3 separate regions of the Homo sapiens genome follow, and regions 1 and 3 are each linked to region 2. Evidence: fine-mapped expression QTL. A gene starts in region 2. Each other region holds a variant in brackets. All regions are shown on one strand. Distances are between the middles of the regions.

The links.
Region 1: its variant is fine-mapped to the expression of XPNPEP1 in T cells (TOPMed, PIP above 0.99). The same link has a PIP of 0.9 or more in blood mononuclear cells and whole blood.
Region 3: its variant is fine-mapped to the expression of XPNPEP1 in adrenal gland (GTEx, PIP above 0.99).

The regions. Positions count from the first base shown.
Region 1 is chr10:109,860,449-109,868,602 of GRCh38, forward strand. It overlaps XPNPEP1 (X-prolyl aminopeptidase 1), which reads right to left. Exons shown (of 21, transcript NM_020383.4): 21 at 4,318-4,864. The coding sequence ends at 4,736. Among named protein-coding and RNA genes, the nearest start is that of XPNPEP1, 59 kb to the right of the region's middle. The variant G/A (reference allele first, on the strand shown) is at 4,563.
Region 2 is chr10:109,919,724-109,927,900 of GRCh38, forward strand. It overlaps XPNPEP1 (X-prolyl aminopeptidase 1), which reads right to left and starts at 3,788. Exons shown (of 21, transcript NM_020383.4): 1 at 3,679-3,788. The coding sequence starts at 3,710. RefSeq lists a silencer at 3,464-4,003.
Region 3 is chr10:109,881,099-109,889,275 of GRCh38, forward strand. XPNPEP1 (X-prolyl aminopeptidase 1) reads right to left here. Exons shown (of 21, transcript NM_020383.4): 6 at 7,405-7,497; 7 at 6,951-7,094; 8 at 5,148-5,243; 9 at 2,969-3,050; 10 at 1,334-1,544. Among named protein-coding and RNA genes, the nearest start is that of XPNPEP1, 38 kb to the right of the region's middle. The variant G/A (reference allele first, on the strand shown) is at 3,352.

The DNA of each region.
Region 1 (8,154 bases), 59 kb before region 2:
CCTTCCTCCCCTCTCGCAGCCCTCCCAGTCCCCCATCTTGTCTCTTGCTAGAGGCCAACGGTGCTTGAAAGATGCCCCAAAGCACTCTACTTTGTCTTCATATCATTACTGGTATAAACCCCCAGTTGCTGGGAAACACGAGGGCAACACCTCCCTCATGGCTTGTTAGTTCAACCTTGGTTCCTTTCACAATTGCCCACCCCTAACCGGGAATGAGCCTGATGAGGAACAACTGATGGTTACTGTCAGGCAGCCAGATGCCAGGCACAGCCCTCAAGCTAAAGAAGTGGTGAGAGCTGGGGTGGTGGGGGCAGCCCCCTCACTGGCAGGAGGCACAGATGGACTCTTTCCAGAAGGCGAACAAGCGTCCCACAAGTCAGTCCCTGGAGTGTTCACAGCAGGGGCCCCACATCTGTCCCCTTCCTTGAATCCTCCTACCTTATACATAAAACTTCACCAGGGAATACAGTGAGCAAGACAAAGAAACGAGATCAGCTTCCTTCTTTAAATTCAACACAATGCCCATTTTCCTACCCAACATTTATTTTATCATTTATTTAAAAGTGAGGAAGAGTGATTTTTTTTTTTTTATCTACATTTTTATCTCCTCATCTTCCCTCTGAGCTCTGGCACATTAGAGTTTTATTCTGGTCCTCAATCCTTATGGGGCCATCTTGCCTAGTTTATGTCTCTTGGACTTAATGCCAAGACAAAGCAGGTCCAGGCAGGAAGCTCCAAGCACCCAGCACCTGTTACCTTTGCTTCTCGGGCTACAGCCAATTAAATCAAACTTTGCTCTGAGGCTGCCTTGGGGAAGAACAGGTTTAACAGCCTGATGAACAGACAGTGGAGTTGCCGTCACACTTGAGTTACGACTATTTCAACTCCAAATCAACTGCGATTCATGCCTCCCATTTCCTCAGCAAGAGAAGACTTTGGGATATCAGAGAAGACAACAGCCTGAGTCCTAAGGGAAATCTTCTAACTTCCAGAGGAATGACAGATGAGAAACATGCTTAATACATTCTATCATTTGGGGAGAAATTTCTCTTTTAAGTCCAATGTTATGGTACATATTAGAAATATGACCAAGCATGGACAAAAGGCATTCAAGAATTGATCTTTGATGGATCAAAATATGTCCTATTATTGGGAGGCACTGCTTCTATGCTTTCCTGACCTCGTTAGAAATATACCGAGAGGCAGCAGTGAATCTTGCTTCCTCCCACATAGCACATTGAAATCAATGATCCTTGAGAGAAAAAAAAAAAAAAAAAGAGGAGGGTGGGAGACGAAAAGCAAACAAATGCTGGTTCATTTGTTTTTAGGCACTCTATGTAGGACCACCCTGGTTCTGAATGGTAAATATAGATTGTTTCATTTCATTTTCTGCTCCGCCAGGTGGAGAAAGTAATGGGCACTTACAGCCATGCTTTGGTAAATGGCCAAAGTATGCTTATATTTATTCATTTGTCAAAGCCATTCGAATTAAATATATGGTTTAGGATTTAAGGAGAGGATTCTGGGAAGATGGTAGGAAGCACTCGGAAAGTGTCTCTCCACCTAGACAACAATTGCACTGGCAGAATCTGCCTGATGTAACTACTTTAGAACTCTGGAGTCTACTGAACGCTTGCAACTTCCAGAGGACAACTTGGATGGTAAATGAACGTTAATTTCAATCCATTTCAGCTCTTAGCACAGTAGCAGCTACCAATGTCTACTCCTAACCCCTTGGCAGGAACTTATGCACACGTTCCCAGAGCAACTGGCATACAGCTTGTGGGAGCCAAAATGAACAAAAGGAAACTTGCCCTCCAAATACTGCAGACCTGTGTTCTGGTAACTGCTTCTGAACACAGAGACGCAGACAAAGACGTGGGCAGCCACTGTTGCTGTACATCCCATCCCCCGACTGTTAGAAGTCCCTTCTCCCCTTCTGGCTGAAGTGACTTCCAGAGGATTTAAAGGACCAGTACCCTTTTCCTGCCCTTCATTTTTCTTTTTCCCTCGTTGGGAGCCAGACATTAAGTAATAGGACATTCAAAAACAACTGCACATATAGGGGAAATTAGAGACTGACTGCACATATCCAGGGAAAGGCTCAAGCTCAGAAAAAAACCTGAGAAGACCTTAAGTTGATACCTCAGGCTGATACTTGGCCCACAGACTATCTACAACAATAAATAATAATAATAATAACACACATTAACAAAAAAGGGCAAACCCTAGGGAAAGAGGAAAATCTGATTTCCAGAGTTGCCACATTATTAGATTCAAATGTCCAATTGTCAACCAAAACTCACAAGGCATACAAAGAAACAGGAAAGTATGGCCCATTCAGAGGAAAAGAAAAATCCACAGAAAAAAAGGAAATATCAATAGAGACAGACAACATAAAAAGAAACCAAAATGAAATTCTGGAGCTGAAAAGTACAGTAACTGAAATGAAAAATTCACCAGAGGGATTCAAAGCACATATGAGCAGGCAAAAGAGAAAATCAGTGAACTTGAAGATAGGATAACAGAAATTTTGAGTCTGAAAAACAGAAAAAATATTAAAGGGAACAGAGCCTAGAAGACCTGTGGGACACCATCAAGCTGACCAAAATATACATTGTTAGAGTCCCAGGAGAAGGCAGAAAGCAGCAGAGAGAATATCTGAAGAAATAATGGCTGTATAATTCCCAAATCTGGTAAAAGACATGAATGTAAACATCCAAGAAACCCAATAAACCACAAGTAAGATTAACTCCAAGAGATACACACAAAAATACATTATAGTCGAGCTTCCAAAAGTCAAAAACAGAGAGAATCTTGAAAGCAGTGAGAGAAAAGCTACTTACCACGTAAAAGGGATCTTCAGTGAGATTACCTGCAGATTTCTCATCAGAAATTCTGGAGGCCAGAAGGCAGTGGGCCAATATTCAAAATGTTAAAAGAAAAAAAAAAAAAACTGACAACCAAAGAATCCTATATCCAGCAAAACTGCCCTTCAAAAGTGAGGGAGAAATTAAGAGGTTCCCAGGTAAACATAAGCTGAGGGAGTTCAGTACCACTAGACCCACCCTGCAAGAAATGCTTATAGGAGTTCTGCAAAGTACAATGAAAGGACACTAGACAGTAACCCAAAGCAGTATGAAGAAATAAAGATCTCAAGAAAAATAAATACATTGGGCAATTATAAAAACCAGTATTAGTGTACTGATAGCTTGTGATTCCAGTTTTTGTTTTCTATATGATTTAAGACTAATACATTTTTTAAAAAATTATGTCTAAATGCTAGTATTACTGTTTTTAAAAAGTTAATGAGGCTAGTTTTAAAACAATATAACCATACGATGGAATTAAGTCATTAAAAATAATTCAATCTAAAATATTGCCAAGTTAAAAGATAAAATTGTATACGTACAGAATAATTCACTGTTTGTAAATGTGATATGTTCATATATGGCATATTCTTTCATACATACACAAATAATCAGTATTTTAGTAAATTTTGAATACAAAAAAAAAAGGAGTCAGCAAAAAATATAAAGCAGATAATAGTGGTTATATCTAAGGAGTATGTCAGGTTGGATTAATAAAAAAGCAGACCCTAAAACAAGGATTTGCATGTAAATGGTTCATTCAGGATGGTACCAGGAAACACTAATGGGACAGGAAGAAAGTAGGACATGGAAGAGAAGAAAGAAAACAAAGGGTTGGTTATTGAGCAAGTTACCATGGTGGGCAAGTGGGGCTCAATCCCACTGGGAAACCCTGAGTGACAATGTAAGACATACCTCTGATATCTTAGCCAAAGGATGAGGAAGTCTATTTGCCCATCCCATCCCCAAACGTGATGGTCTGAGATCTCAGGGACATTAACTCTCCAACCCTTGGAGCTTGCCCCACATATACAAGTCAAAAGAAATCCTGCAGAATGGGAGTCGCAGGCACTTGTCACAGAATCCTGCCTACAAGTAACGGAACAATGAGAGCTGTGGCCATGTAGGTAAGACACTTGTGGCATCTGCTATAGGGTGAGTTATGGAAAACTGACTTTTGACATAATTTTTATTGTTTTTTGCATAGGAATGACATATTTTAAAATCAGGAAAAAAAACTGAGATAAAAACACCATAATATTAGGTTTTCTAGAGAAAAGAAAAAGCTTACAACTAAGCCCCCAAATGTGCGGGGAGGCCAGGGGTCTCTTCTCAAAGGGGCCCTTCCACCTAGGAAATGTCTGCCACAGAGCCAGCAGCCCTGGAGATCAGCTCACCCGACATGCCGGGGGACAGCACCATGAAGAAAGAGACAGCTAAGACAAAGCACAGTTCTGACATTTTTATTCACTGATCATAAATATAGTCTCATGAGCATTAAGGTGATCATGAATGATGTACTAGCACCTGGAACATGACCATCATGGAGCACTCACTGATTCCCCATCACTGGCCAAAGAAGTCGGGGCATCTTCCTTTCACCAAGTGTTCAACTTTGGAGGGACCCTCCTTCTGGTGCAGCAATTTTATTCTTGGCTTGTTCTCAACAATTAAAAAATCATAAAAGACTGA[G/A]TGTTTGCAATAAAATATCAAAGAGGATAAGAAGATTTTCTGTTCTTCTTAAAGTCTAAAGTAAAAAGGGGAGGTAGGGAAGAAGGAAAGGAAAGGGGAAAGATGTCAGGGATCTGCCACGTTTCTTCCTTCCTCCAGAGCATTTTACAAAAACAAAACCGGGGAGGTATTTATTAATGCTGTTTGGAGATGGGTTGCGTCTCTCTGATGAGCCACTCGAGAGCTTCCTGGCGGCCCTGTTTCTGCAATTCCTTCCCAATCACATCCCTGCAGGTCAGGTGGTAATTGTTGAGCCAGTCGCACTGCAGGGAAGAGAAGGACAGACACGGTATTCACCACTACATCTTTAACAACTGGCTACACAGGTCAACAGCAAAGGCCCCCATGTGCTAAGATCACAAGCTGAGAGAAAAGGTGTGCAACACCCTTTCTCCTTACTCACAGGTAAGTATTTTCCTTGTGTTCTGTTTCCCCGGAAATACATAGGACCAGACTTCATGGCTTCTGGTGAAAAGGCTCCCAGAACAGTTTACTATTATAGACAGCAGTCTCTAAGCCAGTAGCTCCTGCTCCCACCTGTGTGGCTTCATTCCCTTAAACCTGAGCCATCCTGGGAGGTGGTAAGTGGGGGAATAGCCCCGGACTCTGTGAGAACTCCTGCTGAGAGAGACACTCGAAGCTGTCCTGCCAACACACTGGGCTACATATCCTATATCCACTGAAAAAGCTGAATAAAAAACTAGGATCAGCCAAGCCCATGGGTGTCTTTTGAGTGTAGCTGCCTAGATGAACCCAAAACCTGCGGTGGTTAAAGACTGTGGTGCAGCAGAATGGCGCTGGGAGTAAACTTAGTTTTCAGACTCTCAACTCAACATGCCACAAGAGCAGGAGACAAAAAAGAGAGTGAAAGGAAGGACCTGCTGGCAGGACTTGGTGCCTGGGCAGGGGCTGATCCACTAGACATGATGGCAAAAGCTCTGAGGCAGGAAAAAGGGTGAACTCTCCTCCTTGGTTGTATACGGGAAAAGGTGAAGTCTGGAGTGAAGCAGGTTTTACCAAGAGGACAACAAGCCACTCTCATCACTGTCTATGGGGGTAGCTGTCTGGAAGCTGATGAGACTGATAGTGCCATGGCTGTGCTTGTCATAAATGAGTCAAAGGCCATTTTGGAGGGCAGCGATGTTACAGAAGTACTGCTTTCAGGGACTACAATCCAGCCAGGTACCAAAGCCCAGCTGGGGTCAGGATGGGCACACAAACCCATTAATTACAAGGGACTGAGGGCAGACAGATAGGGTGGTGTTACCAACTGGCTGTGACCCAGCCAGGGTTCCAATCCCTACTGAGAAGAGCCTAGTAGCCCCTTCTGGGAGTCAGGGAAGTGATGGGGGCAGGGGAGGATGTCAAAAGCAGGCAAACTGCTATGTGTCCACAGCAAGGCCAGCAGGGCTACAAAGCAGCCTACTGTCCAAAGCAGCTCAACAGTAAGGCAACGGCAGCATCCTGGTGTAAGCCTGGGGCCACAGCCAAACGCCCATGGCCCTTTTGGTTGGAAGTAGGGAGGGAAAAGTGGGAGTGTGGACAGCCTCGGTGGAGCCTGAGGAGCAGCACAAGGCCCTGACAGTCTGCAGCTGGCCATATTCATATCTGACCAAGGTCCTTTGCTGCCATCTGGTGATAAGTGATGACGATGCAGACCCAAACCAAAAACTCCCTAAAGTGACTCCAAAATAAAGGCTAAATAGTAAAGGGCAAATGACCAGATATTTTAAAAGCCAGATATTTTAAGAAGACATTATCTGCCCTACAAAGAGTAACTGGCCGAAAGAATAGTTCAATCATGTGGGCATGCAAGGTGCAGCAATGAAACACTGGGTAACACAGATCCCTGGTCTATGTCCAATGTCACGGGAGTAGACTGATTCTCCTTCGAGGAAAAATGGCCTGGCTTAAACTTCCTCATATACTACTTCCCTGGATAAAGGGGAATGTCATATGGGAGAAATGCCTCCTGATGGGTACACTTTATGTGGACAGGAAGGACTGCATGACCTAGAATTACTTGGCAGGAATCCATAGCCTTGGACTTCCAAGAGTGCGAAATGACTTATTACTGGAAAGCCCCTTGCTAAGTCCCTGGAAGCTGTGCCCAAGGGCCATTACAAGAGACACTGGTTCCTATGGGGCAGAGGGATTCTAAGCAGGGTGGGTCCCATGCCCACCTATGTGTTTTCATTTCCTCTCAGCTAAGGCAACACTTACAGGGGCTGGACAAGAGCCCCTGGACACTGGAAGGACTCTTCCTGCTGAAGAGACACACCAGACATTGTGCTGATAGGCTGAGTTTCCTTTTCCATATCCATCTACAAGCTGCATAACCCACCCGGTATCAGCAAGGCCCATGTGGGTCCTGTGAGTGGGAATGTTTAGCTGAACCAAGGGCACGGATGGTTAAGCAGAGGCGCTCAAGCACAGAGGAAAGCTAAGCAGGAAGTGGATGGACTTTCTCATCACCCACCTGTGAACTGGAACAGGCAGAAGAGGCTTCTAGCTGGGAGAATCCCATTCCACAGCTCCTGTGGAAGGGAAGGTCCTTAACCCCCAAAGACCCTTTCCTTTACAGTGTCAAGAACGAGGCCCAAGTGGGCGCCAGTGAGGAAATGTTCCTGCCTTGAGAGGCACTCAAAGGCCATTGGCTGCCTCAGATAACAAAATATTCTTATTCCGAGAGTAACCCACCGTGCTTACCCTGCCTTCGGCTCCCACCAGTCATTTGCTTTTCATTGGAACTTCTGACCCCTGCCTTGCTCTGGAATTTGTGTCCTCCTGGCTTCCAGCTTCCTGGTTTGGGAACTGTTTTGTCTGTCTAGTGCTAACAGTTCCTACCCCATTTCTGACCCTTGTTTCTGCTCTGACCTTGAACATCTGTGTGATTCTTCAGGCCTTTCTCATGTCCCCAGGACTGCCATCTGACCTGGCCTTACCAGTCCAGGGTCTGAAGGAGTTAAGACCCATAACCCTCTGAGCTGGGCAAGTAAGCACTGTTGTGCCCCAGGCTTTGTGAAGGGTTTCACTGCCCCAGAGTGACCACAGTAGTAACCGAGAAGGGCTGGTACTATCTTTCTCCTTGTCTGTGTGAAAACAGGACATACGATAATAGATTTTGCTTTCCATTTCCTTAATGTTTCATGTAACACAAGAAAACAATCTGGTATGTACAGTGGCCAAGAGGCCCCACCATCCATCTGGCTTTTTGTAGGGACACACATAGGCTCATATTTGCTAAACACGCCTCACTGCAGCTATGGAGGAATAGTACAGCCAAACAATGGCATACGAGTTCCACCCACAAACCCTACAGCCCCAGAATGGCTGCGGGAAACAGGACTATCTCCACCTGGAGGCCCAACAAATACAGGAAAAGCTCAGGAGTCCTCAGAAAACCTAGGGCTTTCAGACTCAACTGGCCTAGACCTCTAAATTTAAAAATTACAAAGTGAGACTGGATTAGAGAATTTAGGATTTAGAGGATGGATTAGAACTATTTAAGGTAGTCTCCACCTCCCCTAGTAACATGCCTGCCCACCAAGAC
Region 2 (8,177 bases):
AATGTTCTTTGCCAATAAAGGGAAATCACGCCAGGCGCGGTAGCTCACGCCTGTAATCCCAGCACTTTGGGAGGCTGAGACGGGCAGATCATGAGGTCAAGAGATAGAGACCATCCTGGCCAACATGGTGAAACCCCATCTCTACTGAAAATACAAAAATTAGCTGGGTGTGGTGGTGCACACCTGTAGTCCCAGCTACTCAGGAGGCTGAGGCAGGAGAATCACTTGAACCCGGGAGGTGGAGGCTGCAGTGAGCCAAGATCGTGCCACTGCACTCCAGCCTGGCAACAGAGCAAGACTCCGTCTCATTTAAAAAAAAAAAAAGAAAGAAAAGAAAGAAATCACACCTATGACATAGGTGAACCTTGAAAACATGCTAAGGGAAAAAGCCTAATACAAAAGACCACATAGTATATGATTCTATTCACATAAAATGTCCAGAATAGGCAAATCGGTAAAGACAGGAAGTAGACATGCAGTGTTGGTGGTTGCCAAGGGCTGAGGTGAGGAGTGACTGATTACAGGTAACAGGATTTCTTTCGGGGATGAAGAAAATGTTCTAAAATGATTGTGATGATAGTTGTACAACTCTGTGACTATACTAATAACTTGAATTGTACATTTTAACAGATGAATTGTATATAAGTGAATTATATCTCAATAAAGCCATTATAAATTTTATAACATCTCTTTCTTGTGGACAGGGATACAAGTCAGATTCTCACCGAATTTCCCATTACTTCATACGTAAGTTTCTAAGATGGTAAGTAACTGATCCCAATGACTGGTTCAGACACATGACTACAGAGGTGGAAGGTTATCATTTTTTTAGAGACAGGGTCTTGCTGTGTCACTCAGGCTGGAGTGCAGTGGCACAATCTTAGCTTATGGCAGCCTCAAACTCCTAAGCTCAAGCAATTCTCCTGCCTCAATCTCCCAAGGACCTAGGACTACAGGTATGTGCCATCACACCAACCTGATTTTTTTTTTTTAATAATTTTCTGAAGAGACAGGATCTCACCACATTGCCCAGTCTGGTCTCAAACTCCTGGCCTCAAGTGATCCTCCCACCTCAGCCTCCCAAAGTGCTGGGACTATAGGTGTGAGCCACCGTGCCTAGCCAAGGTTACCTTAAGGTAATCCTATTCATTCATTTTACAGAATAAAAAAACAAAGATAACTTACCATAGGCCATATAACTCAGTAGCCGCAAAGCCAAGACCAGAAACTAGGTCTGACAGGTGAGCTCAAACTCTCTGTGTGAGCATCAACACCTCCACCTTTCTGTCAGGATCACAGGAGCTACGAAGCAGCTCAATACTACAGCTGCTCTGTTCTTGTCGTATCTTGGTCTCCGCAGAGTCCAAGATCTATCCACCTTTCACTTGTTTGGACAGATAAAATTCTTAAGTTCTCTGTCAAAGCACAATTATCATTAAATATTAAGAACTAGAAGAATATACCTCAGGGACTATCCAACTCAATTCCCTCCTCTAGACCAGGAAACCAAGAAACAAAGATCAAATGACTGGCTCAAGGCCTCACAGCTAACTGCTGACAGAGCTAGAACCAGCGTTCCAGCCTCCCAACATCCAGCTCAGTGCTCCTACCCTTCCCAGAACTTCTTCGACCTACACCTTCTCAACTTCATGATGAGCCACAAAGTGGGTAAGGGGCAAGAAGCATGCAGAGCACTTTCAATCTTTGTATAAGATGGTTATGGTAGCACTAGAAAAGGCCTTCTCCCTCTTTTTCCAAGAAATTCTGGCAGGGTTCTGAATACCTCACCCCCCTGCAACCCCCAGTTCATGGGAATCACACATGTGTAGCGTTCAGCATGGGGCAAAACAAGGAACAAGATGCTCAATCACACCTAGTGGATGAGACAAGGGTAAACTGGAACAAGTTCTAAGGTTGGGAAGTAAGCAATGTTGTCTTTGTCTACCCAGAATCCATCCCTCCTTTTGATGGGAACCTTGGTTTTCCTTTTGAGAATGTACCCTCTCCATTTCAGCCCAAGGGGTTCAAAGCAGTCTTATCCAAACACCTAACAGGCTCTGGGACCCAAAGCAGGTCAATCCCTCCCTCTGGCCATAATGATTGGTTCACAGATGAACATGAGAATTAAGGCAGCCCAGTGAGCATCAGATCAGGGACTTCTGCTCCATTAGGAAGGAGGGCTCAACTTCTCTGCTGGGGCTGTCAGCCTAGAACTGTCATAACCTGCCATAAGGAGAAAGTCTCCCTGAGAATGAAGCGGATACTGAATAAATCAGAGCCAAGAGATGATAAAGAGAAGTCTGAAGCCAATGTTGGTGGTGCTCCCGGATTCAGCCACACTAGAAGCCAGCTCAACCCCATTTTAGGTAAATCAATTTGAGTTCAGTTTCCATTACCGAAACTGAAAGAAGTGCTCACTTTTACAAGGAATGGCACTCAAATTCTACCAGTAGGGGAGGCGCCTGTGGAAAATGGCTTCCCCTCTCTCAGCCTTTCACTGGACTTTCCTTTGAGGTAAAAAAGACTCTACCAGCTGGTGTAGAAAAGACTCTTCTGCTCCTAAAAGGCTGTGAGTCTATAAATCTAGCACAGATCACCTTGGCCCCCTAAAGACCACCTGAGGCCTACAGCCTAACTCATCATTATCCACTTGCCTGACTCCATTTCCAGCACTTCACTTACAGGAAGCTCCTTCCAGATGGAAGTTCTCCACCCCTCCCACATACTTCCACAGGGTGGGTCTGGTTTTCTGCTCACCCTTAACAAGCTGTGGCAACGGCAAATCCAGGTCAAGGTAGGTTTGGGACCCCCCTACTCACAAACACAAGCAGGAGCCATGGTCTGTGTTCAGCAAGAAAGCCTGGCCATGCTGCAAAGTGAGTGCATTCATGTCTCAAGTGGTTAGCAGGTGGGTGACCCCTTGGGGATGGCCAGGGAGTCTGGCCTGTGGCCTCCATGAACTCTGAACACCTCTCTCCGTCTCCCACTTTGTCAGAGGCTCTGATAAGTACATCCTGGTTATGGCAGGGGAATAAACTAAAACATGTTTAACTTGAGGCCGGGAAATTATCTGTCTCACCCTCCTATGCCCAAGGAGAGCCCAGGGCAGGCTACTGGGGGGATTTTCCTGGAGATTATACCAAAATATTCCCTTACACAGCCTCTGAAACCATTTGGGTAGGGAGGGGCCCGCGACCGTCTATCCTTGTGGCGGTGACAGATCAGTAGAGTGAATTGCAGGAGTCAGTATTGTCGAGATTGTAACTTGAGGTTTAGATTCCTGGGTAACAGAAGCGAGGGCAAAGGCTCGCCCACCTCCCCGGACACGAAGAGGGGCCAACTTCCTCCAAGAACGGGGCCTTCCCGCGGGCCAGGAACTGTGACGGCCGCCGCCCCCTCAGGCCGAGTGCAGCAGTTCCGCGGGCATACGCGTCCAGGAACCAGACTCGGGCCGCCCCGTGCCCACCGACCCTCCGGAAACGAACCGGATCTCGCCCGGCCTCATGGACCCCTTCCCCCGGCTCCTGTTCCGGGGCTCCGGCGAGCGCGGCCCTCGCCAGACTGCGGCGGGCCGGGCTCCTCACCCGCGCGTCCCTGCCCGCCGAGGTGCAACACGCGCGGCCGCGCAGCGAGGGCTGCACGCTGCCCGGACGCCGGCTGCCGGCGGAGTGCCCTCACCTTACTCGCGGTGGCTTTCTGGAGGCTGCCATTCGGCGGTGACGTGCCCCAGCCCACGTCAGGGGAGCGCAGACCAGCTGATCACCCGCGGAAGGGCCGGCGCGAAGGAGGCGCGAGAGCCGGCGGGCGGGCGGGCGGGCTAGCGCCGGGTCGGCCACGCCCTCGCCCGTGGCGGGCGCTGGCGCCGCGGCCCCGCCCACACGCAGGCCCCGCCCACACTCCCGGACCTGGGGTTCGCGGCCGCAGCGCCTGCGGCCCAGAGCGGGGCCTGCCCTTCCACACCAGTCCGCATTGCCTCTCCCTGCAGCGAGCGGGGAAAGGACGCAGTGCTGCTGAGTGTCTTCATTTTTGTTCGTTTTTGTCGTCATTCCTCAAAGAGGAAAAAGGGCTTTGCCGAATAAAGGGGCTACTGTCCCAGGGATTTTCCGGCTTAATTTAGGAGGGCTGAGAAGAGAGGGACGTGGCCGGCTCCGGAAGAACCTCGACAGGGTCTTCGAGGCTTTGGAACAGGGTCTCAAGCTTTAGAAATGTCCCCAAAAGTATGTTCCCAGAGAGCTTCAAAATCCAGCTCTCCGCTCCGCTTGGATAGTAAATAGCCCCTTCAAACTTAACGTCCAAACGGAACTCCTGGAACTCCCAATGCACCGAAGCAAAGCAAAAACGTTCTCCACCAGTCTTCTTTGCCATCTCAATCAATGGCTACTCTATTCTTAAGAGGCAAAATTTAGGAATCCTCCCTGCCTCTTCTCTTTCACACCCCACATCTAATCTGCCAGCAAAATCTTGTTGGCCCTGCCTCCAAAATAGACCCCTAATCTGGCCGTGTCACACCACCTCCACCTCCTACCCTCTGATGTGCATCAGAGGGTTGTACCACCCCACCCGTGTGGTTACAGCAGCCCCCCAAATATCCCCTCACCATCCCGCACCTGCACAGTCCAGCCTGAACAAAGCCGCCAGACCAGTCCTTTGAAGCGTGACACCAGGTCACTTCTTTGCTCAGCACTTTCCATTAATTTCTCGTTTCACGCAGCATAAAAGCTCCATTTGATCTACCCCCAGCCACATTTCCTCCTGTTCTCACCTTCCTCACTCTTCTTCAGCTGAAATGGCCTCCTGGCTCTCCTTGAAAAAGCAGGGTACACTCATGTCCCAGGGCTTTTGGACTTGCTCATCCCCCAAATATTGAGGCTCCCTTCCTCATTTTCCTTCAAGTCTTCGTTCAAGTATCACCTACCCTGACCATCCTATTTAAATTTGTAAATCATTCCAATATTCCTAATCCGCCTTACCCTACTTCATTTTTTCCATAGCACTTACCACCTTTTAACAGGATTCTTTTAATGTACTTATGTGTACTGTATTCTTCCCCCTCTCCTGCCACCACCCACGCACACAACAAAACCATCAGTGCAGATTGTTTCTGTTTTGTTTAATGATGAACAATATCTAACATGTCATAAGTTCTCATTATATATTTTCTGCAGAAATGAATGTTTCAGAATGTGCACTCCTCAAAAGCAGGGATGGTGGCTCTCTTGTTCATTGTTATTTCCCTGGTGCTTAGAACAACACCTGGCACTAAATGAAAGTGACCACATTTTTTTAAAGGTGAATGGCACCTCCTCCTGCTTTGACCTTGGTGTAAGGCCTAATATACCTGTATCAGCTAGGTTCTGCTACCTGCAAGAACTCAAAGTCGTTATTGAATAAGCATTTAGGCAAGCCGAATTAGACTGTGTAGTTAAAGCATGAAAAAACTAAAGATGTGCTTCCTGGGAAAGCAGCACACATCTGTTGCATTTCCCCAAATTTATGAAGCCAAAAACAGAGAGATTGTAAATAAAATACTGGTTCCAGCCCACATCTGAAAGCTGGTGGGAAAAATCAAGTTATAAGAGAAAACGAGATAAGAGAGAGAGAGATAAGTGAAACTTAAGGGGGACAGGTATTTAATAATCACATTGCCTAAAAGAAAAGGAGTTGGCTCAGAATTTACGGCATCCAGCTTCAGGGGAGAGAGAGAAATACCTTGCATTCCCTGAGCTGGATTTGAGTTCCTGTTTGCAAGATAAAAAAAGGAACCCTTTCCCCTCTTGAAGTTTTTTTGTTTGTTTGTTTTTTGAGATGGAGTTTTGCTCTTTTTGCCCAGGCTGGAGTACAATGGCACAATCTCAGCTCACTGCAACCTCTGCCTCCCGGCTTCAAGCAATTCTCCTGCCTCAGCCTCCTAAGTAGGTGGGATTACAGGCATGCGCCACCACACCCGGCTAATTTTTTGTATTTAGTAGAGACGGAGTTTCACCATGTTGGTCAGGCTGGTCTTGAACTCCTTGGCCTCGACCTTCCAAAGTGCTGGGATTACAGGCATGACCCACTGTGCCCGGCCTCGCTCTTGAAGTTCTAACAAGAGAACCTCTGGAGAAGTTATAGCACTGAATTACCATGAGAGAATGAGAACACCAGGAGTTATATAGGTTCTTCTCCTGGCTCTACAGTCCTTGCATCCTCAAAGAAGTGGAACAGTCACACTGCCTGACATTCATTGAAGGCTATGTGTCTAACCCACAACAAACCAATGGGTGAAGGACTCTTATCCTCATTTTACTGGTTGAGGAGACTGAAATTTGCAGAGGTTAAGCCCCTTGCCCAAAGTCCCTGAGCTAGTAAGTGGTGGTACTGTAACATACATTCAGACAGCAGGATGGATTCCTAGCCCTGACACTTAATCGCGAAGTTATCTGGAAGGGACCCTAGAGGTGGCCTCATCCAGTCTCCTAGCCCACACAGCAGAAAGAGGGAGACAGCTGGTTTTGGCATTCACACCCAGACCGGGTGGGTCTTAGATGTAGCCAGAAATATTAAATGCGTAGAAATATGTTGGATTGAATTGTGACCTCAAAAATTCATATGTTGAAGCTCTAACCCCTAGTACTTTCGAATGTGATCTTATTTGGCAATAGGATCAGTGCAGATGTAATTAATTAAAATGCAGTCATATTAGAGTAGGAAGGATCCCTAATCCAATATGAAGTGTCTTTATTTAAAACAGAAAAAGAAATCACACTGTGCACACAGGAAGAACACCATGTGAACACGAAAGCAGAGATCAGGACGATGCATCTACAAGCCAACAAACACCAGGACTGCCAACAAACTGCCGAAAGCTAGGACAGAGCCATGGAACAGATTCTCCCTCACAGCCCATGGAGTGAACTAACCCTGTGGGTATCTTGATCTTGGACTTCCAGCCCTCCAGAACAGTGAGACAACAAATTTGTTTTCAAATCACGCAGTTTGTGTTGCTTTGTTACGAAAGCCCTAGGAAACCAATGTAAAACAAGTTCCAAATGTCCGTGTATAGATTGTGGACCTGTGTTTTGGGCCACCCGACATTCATTCATTCTCCTTCTGATAACCATCCTACCAATTCCCTCTGGGGCCCACCTCTCCCTACTTCCCTCCTTTCCCCATTCTCTATGTATGTTATCCAAGTGCAACACTTGGATTCCAAGAGTGTATCATGTAACCCAGGCATAGGCTACAATGATAGGATCAGATATTGCTATGGGAATAGAGTCTTGCTTCCTTCTGCCAGCCAAGATCCTGGATGCATATACTCGAACTGCTGCCTCTATGTGCAACATGTGAATGGCACCAAGGCAGCAGAAGACAGAGCAAATAGAAAGGGGAGAAGCAGACCTCAAAACGTTATTTGAGTGCTGCATCCTGCAACACCTTAAACCAGATGTCCCACTGGACTTTACTTAAGTAACCATCTGTACCATTGAATTTTATGCATGAGTAGATATCATTTTATTAATGTAGACAATCACGAACTAACAAAGGGAAAAAGTAAATTATAAAACAATATAATATCCCTTTTTTTGTTTTTGTTTTTTGTTTTTTGTTTTTTGAGACAGAGTCTCGCTCTGTCACTCAGGCTGGAGTGCAGTGGCACAGTCTCGGCTCACTGCAAGCTCCGCCTCCTGGGTTCACACCAATCTCCTGCCTCAGCCTCCCGAGTAGCTGGGACTACAGGCTCCCGCCACCACACCTGGCTAATTTTTTGTATTTGTAGTAGAGATGGGGTTTCACCGTGTTAGCCAGGATGGTCTCGATCTCCTGACCTTGTGATCTGCCCACCTCGGCCTCCCAAAATGCTGGGATTACAGGCGTGAGCCACTGCGCCTGGCCAATATCCCATTTTTATAACATATCCATAACTATGTATACTGATACGGATATATAGATACAGAGTTTTTTGGGAGGGAGAGACAGGGTCTTGTTCTGTCACCCAGGCTGGAGTGCAGTGGTGTGATCACAGCTCACTGCAGCTTCGACCTCCCAGGCTCAAGCAATCCTCCCACCTTAACCTTCTGAATAGCTGGGACCATAGGCACACACCACCACACCCAGCTAATTTTTTTTCCTTTGGTAGAAATAGGGTCTCCCTATGTTGCCCAGCCTTGGTCTCAAACTCCTGGGCTCAAGCAATC
Region 3 (8,177 bases), 39 kb before region 2:
GATTGATGACCCTGAGCTTAAGCTCAACCAAAAAGAGTAAGTACATCAAACAAGGTGTCTCTCTTCCATCCCTCACTCCCTTAGCTCTTTGAGACTGCTGGCTGCCTGCCGTCAGCAAGACATTGCTTTCCAAGCCACTGTGGTTGTGGTTAGAGTTCACTAACACTGAAAGCTTGACCGAAATCACCCTTCTCTTGCTGTACAAAGGGGGCTTTTTCTCCCTGTCTAGCCATGCACATGACCTGATGAGTGAGGTCTCCTGCTCCCTCCCTTCCCGCCCAGTGGTCCTATCTCAGCTACTGATAATAATCTGATCTTGAAGGGCTGGAGAAGACCCTTTCCAATTTGAGAACAAGTTAGAATCCAGCAGAGGGGCCTCAGCACACCTGGCACTTGCACAAAGCTTCTAAAATTGCTTTTGTGATCTTATCTCCTTTTCTCTTTCTCTCCAGAGAGAGAGGAGAGAGAGAGAGGAGGAGTCACACTGTGTGTGATGATGGCAGGGGTACAATGGCAAGCCAGATCTAGAGAGCCAGGCCTGGATTCTTCCCAGGATGCCCCACTGCTCAGTGGAGAAGAAAGGACATCACTGGGCTTGCCAAAGGCCACTTGGCAGCCAGAGGCCCAGGGGAGGACAGTAGAAAAGCCTACCTCTAAAGAGGCCTGGATTCCAGTCCCATCCCAGACCCTAATGAAAATGAGGCAACAAGTGTCAGCTGCTTAGCACTGCCCAGCAAGGGCTCAGTAAAGGGCAAGGCTATCACTATCACTTGAATTTGACAAATCCCCAAATCCCCAACTCCCCAATCCTCTCTGAGCCTCAAGTGTCCTTAGCTATAAAATGTGGTGCGGCAGAAGGAGGGGGTAGAGAAGCATTTCCCAAGCTTCAAGCATTCTTATACCACCTGCACAGCTTTTACCCTAGCTTCTTAACTGCTGTACCCTTATTCACTTAGTACTTTACTTTAGACCATCTTTAAATCAGCTTTATTAAATTCAACTTTATTTTAAATAATTATATCATGAACTCATGCTAGTTATGTTTTTTCTATTATATGCTAAATGCTGTTAAAACAGATATATTTAAGCAAACCTAAATAATAATGTGTACCACCTAAAATAATCTCTCATGCCACACTCTGGAAAACACAAGACTCAACAAGCAATAAGGGCCCTCAGGCTCTTGCTATGGCTCCAGCTTTAAGGCCTCATCCATGGAGACCACAGTTCTGATCCAACAGGCAGCCTCAGAAATCTGCCTGTGCTCCAAAGACAATACCAGAACTGGGAAGGGGGTGGCAGAGTTTAGATGGGCCAAAGTGGGGTCACCAACCTTGGGGATGGTCTCGCTCACAGCATAGCTGGCCTTGTCACTGACCCACACCTTCTCCCTTGGGGAGAGGTCAGCACACAGGGCCTTGAGCTCGCTCAGGATGGACTTGTAGGGATGCACCTGGATCCTGTATTCGGCTTCCAGACCCAAGTCAAGAAGCAGGTGCTCCTTCACACTGGGGGCGTCTATGCGGTCACCATCAATGAAGAGCCTGCAGATGGAGGAGAGGTGGGTGGCAGAAAAAGGAGGGAACATGAGTGAGAGGTGGCAACACAGACACACATACACATCAGGCTCTGTTTCCTGGCAACCAAAACCAAGCCCCTTTTCTCTCCTCCCCACTCCTTTCCCAAATCCTGCCCTCCAAGGTGCATTCCCTGCCCCCATCCACCCAATCTGCCAAGCCAGAAATCTGGGCAGTGTCCTCCTTCACTGATGACCCTCTTCCCGTCCTTCATTAAGACCTTGGGACCCACAGCCTAAATCTCCATCTAATCTGTCCAGCTCATCTACAGCCTCGCCCAGTCACCACTCAGGTTCAGGTCCCACCATCTCTCACTTGGGTTAGTGCCACAGCCTCTAAGTCTTTCCCCATCTACCGATGTTTCAGTCATAATATTCTTTACAACTTGTACATCTAACATGTGGTTCCCTCTGAAAAATTCGTTCAATAGCTTCCCACTATTCTTGTTCAGAAAAAGAACCCAAGCTCCTGAATGTGGCCCACAAGGCCTCTCTTTTCTGTGGCCCCTGCTCACATTCTGGCCTCACTATGTTCTGACCTCACTGAACCACTTCAGGTCCTCCACATGCACTGTGCTCTCTACTGTCCAGAGTCTCTGAAAATGCTGTTCCCTCTGCTTGGATCATGGTTCCCCGCCCCTCCTCACCCTGCCATTCACCTAACTCACCCACATTTATCCTTACTCTCTGCTTCAAAATATTACTTTCCCCAAGAGTCTGCTCTGATCTCCAAGTCTAGGTCAGGCCCCTCTCGTAACACCTGTATCTGTCCCACAAGCAGACTGGTGCCCACTTATGTGCCCAAATACTTTAGAAAGAGGACATGCTCATCTCCCCAACTCCAGCCAAGGACCCCGTCCTGTTTCAGTCACCCTAGCACCTAACAGAGACCCTTAGCACATCACCAGCACTTAATAAATGTGTTGTCTTAATGCAAAAAGCTATTGAAATAGAACAGTAATGAAAAGAAGGCCACACGAAATGCTTTGAAAAAATAAACTGACAATTCAACAAAGCGTAGTTGGAGGGGTTTTCCCATATTATTTTTGACCTTCAAAATGACTGGGTTTATTTGCATTGTGGACCCAGAATTGTATAATTGAGCATATATACCCCTTAACACTGGCTGCTAGAAAACTTGACATCAAATGGGTGGCCCGAACTATAGACACTTTCATGCGTTTCAAACCATTTTGGGGGCTCAAAGAGAGGCAGGATATAAATAAACACCTACTGCTAAGGAAAACAAGAAGGGAAAATGTTAAAAGGGCAAGAAAAAAGAAGCACATCAGTGAAATATCAGGCAGTGATGGGTGGGCCAGGACCAGAAAGGGCACACTAGGGCTCTGAGGAGCTCTGGAAGGGAGTTCCAGATGCAGGGCAAACACTCACATGATCGTCTCTAGTCCTATGATTGCGTAGGAGAAAAATACTGGATTGTGCTCCACATCTGATCCTCGGAGATTAAATAGCCCTAGAAAAGAAATCAAAATCCCTGTCACCTGTCTGACTTAAGATGTTAAGGGGTCGCTTGTAGCGGGAGGGAAGAGCTTCAGCTTGGAGTCCAGCTGCTGCGCAAGGATTCAGTGGAATCGCACAGAAAGGCTGGAAGCCTGACTCCCGTCTGGTTCCACCTCTGAGCTGCAATTGCTCATGTCCACCACGTGATGGCACCAGAGCTGTTTCTCAGGCTTCCACATCACTGCCCGGAGAAGGGAATAAAAGCTATTAGTTGAAATCCTGAGAACTGCCCCCACAAGGAGTTGAAATGATCC[G/A]CCTAGTGGTGACCTGCCAGGCCTGGCCTTGAAGCCGACAAACCTCTGGCGCTCCCAAATAAAAAGGAAGGAGACGAGCACTCTCTCCCTTCTGAGGCAGATGACCTAGGGTAGAAAAACTGAGACCCTCCCACAAGGGAAGCCAGGCAAGCCTCCTCTGTAAGGGTCAGTGAGCCCCATGGAGACGGAGCTTCCTGTCAGAGGTGGAAAGAAAAGCAGTGAGTCAGCAAGGCTGCAGCTCACCAATGAAATCAGAGCCTGCAGCCCACCCATGGGTCTGCTCTGGCACCACGACTGGGTGGGGGACCTGCGGACAGCCAGTAACAGTGATGTTGCTGAACGTCTGAGAACTAGACAGACCAGGAGAGAGCACAGTTCTGGTCCCAGGACTTCCAGCTTCCGTCACTTGTTCTCATGAGGATCAGAGCAAAAAAACGCCTGGGCATTAAAAGTATAACCTCTATTTTAAAATAATGGCTTCTTAAAGTGATGAGGCACCATTTTTTACCTATCATACTAGCACTTCTTTAAAAATGACAGTACCTGGTGTTCAGGTGTGGCAAGACAGACAAATTCAAATACAAAGGTGCAAACTTTCTGGCAGACAAAGGGCAAGATGAGTCAAAAGCCCTAAAAGCCAACCAGAAATAGGAAGAAAATTATCAAACACTAAGACATGGATTCATGAACCAAGATTTTGATGGTAGCATCATAATAAATTACAGGATTACTGCAAATAACCCAAAGGTCATCCTTAGGGAAACAGTTAAATAAATTATGGTATAACCACATGATGGAGTATTTAATACTCACTTAAAATTATGCTTGTATATGCTTATAGTGTACTGATACAGTGAAAAAATCAGGCTATAAAATGATATATGCATAGAATATTGACACTGATTATCTCTAAGTAACAGAATTTATACGTGATTTTTTTTTTCTTCTTTTTACTTCCTCTGCATTTTCCAAGTTTTCTATCATGGGATTGTGTTTTTGTTACAATCAGGGAGAGAGAAAAGTTTTACAGGTGTTTTTCTCTGACGTTGAGATCATTAAGTTAATTAGGGATGTAAGTCACTGACACACTTGACAATGTTTTGTGGATGGAAGATGCAGGGACTGAAGAGAGAGGACACTGCAGTAGGGTCTCATTCTCTAGTGAGAAGGCAAAAAGATAAAGCAGTGCCTCTTCTCAGTTGCCCTGGGTCAAATCCACTCAGAAACCAGAAGACAGGACAGGAAGGTTCAACCAGATTCCGTCAGGTTTTAGATGAAAGAAGGTGCTGAACAACTGCATGAAGGTGGGTTAAGGTCCAAAGACTGAGAAACTACTATTACATCAAAGGGCTTGGGGAGGAACTTTTAGTTCCTAGTTTTCTGAGGTAGAAATGCTCCCAGAACATTCTCACTATAAAGACCTTAGGAAACCACAGGACAAGTGTAAAGAAAGAAGGCCTCTCCTATGAGCCCACTTCTACACCTACAGAGGCTGACAGACATAAAATATTTGTAGGAAATGCCCTTCCTCAGAGGTGCCATGGTCCTGAGGGACTGGCCAGAGGTGGGCATCACCCAGCTGTAATACTGCTCTGGACAAGCCTCACTCCCCTCCCCAGCTCCCTGTAATTCTTTCTCCTTCATCCTAGTTGGCATCTCCTATACCCATTTGGTGACGTAGTCTTCTTCTTATTCCCTGGCCACTCAGAAAGTTGAATGGCATGAACACACAGATACCCAGAGACCCAAAGGAGAGATCGGGTAACATGCCCAAACAGCGAAACCAGAGCACTCACACGCAATCTCATCCAAGGCAGTGACCACAAACCACATGACGTTCCTCTCAGCCATTTTCAACCGAAGGTCTGCAACCTTGTCCTTCCAGGAGATGCCTGCAAGAAACAAATGTGCTTTAACTCCAGCCCTGGTCCCAGAAAGCAGTAGGAACCCAGTGAAAGAACCTACCCTAAACATCTTTAATCAGCACCATTTCTTACAGGAGCACGCTACTTAAACAGGCAGGAGGCCTGGATTCAAGCCCTATACAAGAAGTGTCCAAGCCACTTGACTGTCGTGAGCCTTGATTGCCTCACCAGTAAAATTCATTCATTTACGCATCCCACAAATGCCTGTGTAACATCTAGATCTGCCAGGCATAGATACGTGCCAGGCACTCTGCTGGTCACTGTGGTTACAGATCTGAGCCAGACCCAGTCCCTGTCTTCATGGGGCTTACAATATAGAAGGGAAGACAGATAATTAAACCAGCAATTAACACACTACTGTAAATACTGATGCAACAGGGGACACACAGGGACCTATATCAACACACTACCCAGCAAAGGGAACTCACCCAGTCTCAGGGGTCAGGGGAACAGCACCCACCACTTGATGTTCCTGGGGGCTGCAAGACTTGCCTTTCAGTGCTAAGACCTAGGAATTCCCTGTAGTCTGACTCACTGTGATTACCACTTCCAAATCACACTTGCCCTTTCAGACACTGCCAAGGCCTCTCTGTTGCTCTGCAAGATGAAATCGTGGTGCTAGAGGAGCTCACCCCATTGCCACCACAACCACCCTACCAGGGCAGCATTCATAACTCAGGGAACAGCCACCTGTGAGCAGGGTGGGCATCTGTCTTATTCACTCAGCACCTCGCACAGCATCCTGCAGATAGTAGGCACCCAAATGTGTACTGAACAGCAACATTTGCTCTCCCCTCTCCTATAAGCAACAAGTCAGAGCTTCTGCTCTAGTGAAAAAAACTTCAAACCACGCTGATGGAAAATATTTAGCTGACCCTGGGCCACTCACTGGACCCATCCTCCCCATTCCGCAATACCCCTCTGGTGAGGATGTCACACAAGAAAGCAGGCTGGGGCTGCCCCCACACCCAGGGCTGCACTGAAGATCAGTTCGGGAATGCTGTTTAAAACTTGGCCCAGAATCTAGGCTGTCACGCTTTCTTCCCAGGACCCCTCTGGGCAATCTGCCTACATTCCACAGCCATCCCCCATCTACCTCTGTTTCTACAGCAAGACGCCCTCCCCTGCAGCCCCACCTCCAGGCCTCTCTCTCTGCCCCCTCACTGCTTCATAAATCCACACAATGGTTCAGAGAACATGCTGCTTACCCATCACTATCGCACAGGCCAAGGAAACACACCCACACCCCAAAGCCTCTAAAGCAGAAGGTACAAGATGGAGGACAAAGGCCTAGGAAGGTAAATCTACAAATGCTGACATAAGAAGGGAAATGGAACCTAGAAACCTCTATGCTCTATTTCCAATATCAAATACGTTCGAGTGGCAGTTAGCAGCTGAGTGGATAAAAAAAACTCAGTCTTTTCAGCAGCACCCAAAAAGCCACCCAAACGAGCTTTGCGAAAATAACCAAAGCCAAACTAAGTGGCAAGTAGGTGGCAACAGTGGAAACAAACAAAGCTCCTGCTTCTTCAAATATCCCACTGGGGCAGAGTAGGGCAAAATCCTCCTGTCAGCTCCAACTCGACTTGGATTCGGAGGACGAGGCTGGAGACAATAGCAAGAGGTGGGGGGACAATGGCAGGGGCCCTGCTGGGCAGAACCATTGATTCTGACCTGTGTAATCCAGGCCCAGTGTGAGGAGAGGCTTGCAAGGGCGCTCAGGACGGTCTGTCCAGATTTTGTCAACGAGGTTCTCCTTGACAGGAATGAGGTGATGGCCGGCACTTCTCAGAACTTTGGCCATTTTCTTCCAATAATCTGAGGAGACACATTGTGGCCCAGCCATGAGCCGAACGCCCATTGCAGCAGGGCAGGGAGCAGGGCCTTGAAAGTCCAGAACCTTCAGAAAGGTGGTCCTGCCATGGCCCAGAGCTGGGTGTGCAGGATGAGGAACTGTAAAAGCACATCTTCACCACCAGTGGAACTCTTCTCTTCACCCTGACCTCTACTATAAAATCAGTCATGCTGAGCCCCCCAGTGCTCCACACCCCACAAGCAAATGAGGAGAATGGAGGGGAATCTAGAAGCCACTTCCTTACCCAAGCAGAAAGGGACCAAGCTCACTTACCTGTAGGAATGATCAAGGGGTCCACACCAACCCTGGATCCTTCAGGAAGCACACTCACCAGCCAGTCTTCCTGAGTTGGTGTGTCCTTCAGACCTACAGGGGGAAGAAATGATAAGAAACAATTCCCAGTGGGCCCACGCTCATTATCCCACCAGAAAGATACAATTCTCTAACATCATGATAGCAGGGTCTTTATTAAGCAGCTTCTTTAAAGTGGATTGACAGGACTTAGAAAATCTGAACCTCCCTTAATCCTGGAAGGCTACAGAGAGGGAGAAGTGTAAGTTTTTGTGTATGAAAAACATAAGACAAGGGTGAGACAGAAGGGAAAAAAGTATGATTTTTCACTTGACCCCTTGTAAAAATATCTTGGGGATCACTGCCACGTACACACATGGCGTCACCACAAAGATTGTCTCCTCAGCGTTCAGTCACTTCCCCACTACTGGTCACTTGATGAGAATTTGGGCAGTGATTTGGTGAAGTCTGGGAACTGGGAGACTCCCACATATCACATACCAGGTAAGGTGATAACATGCTCCCAGTGCCCGCCCCTCATCTGCAAGGGCAGGGTGGCCAAGAGAAGGCCGCTGCCCCATAACCAGCCTCTGAATAGAGGGCTAAGCACAAGTCTTGGCAGCAAAGAGATCTTTCCGAAGATTTTAAGAGAGGCACACAGGCACCTGTCCGGTTGTCTTTATTTATTTATTTACTTCTGAAGACAGAGTCTCACTCTGTTATGCAGGCTAGAGTGCGGTGGCACCATCTCAGCT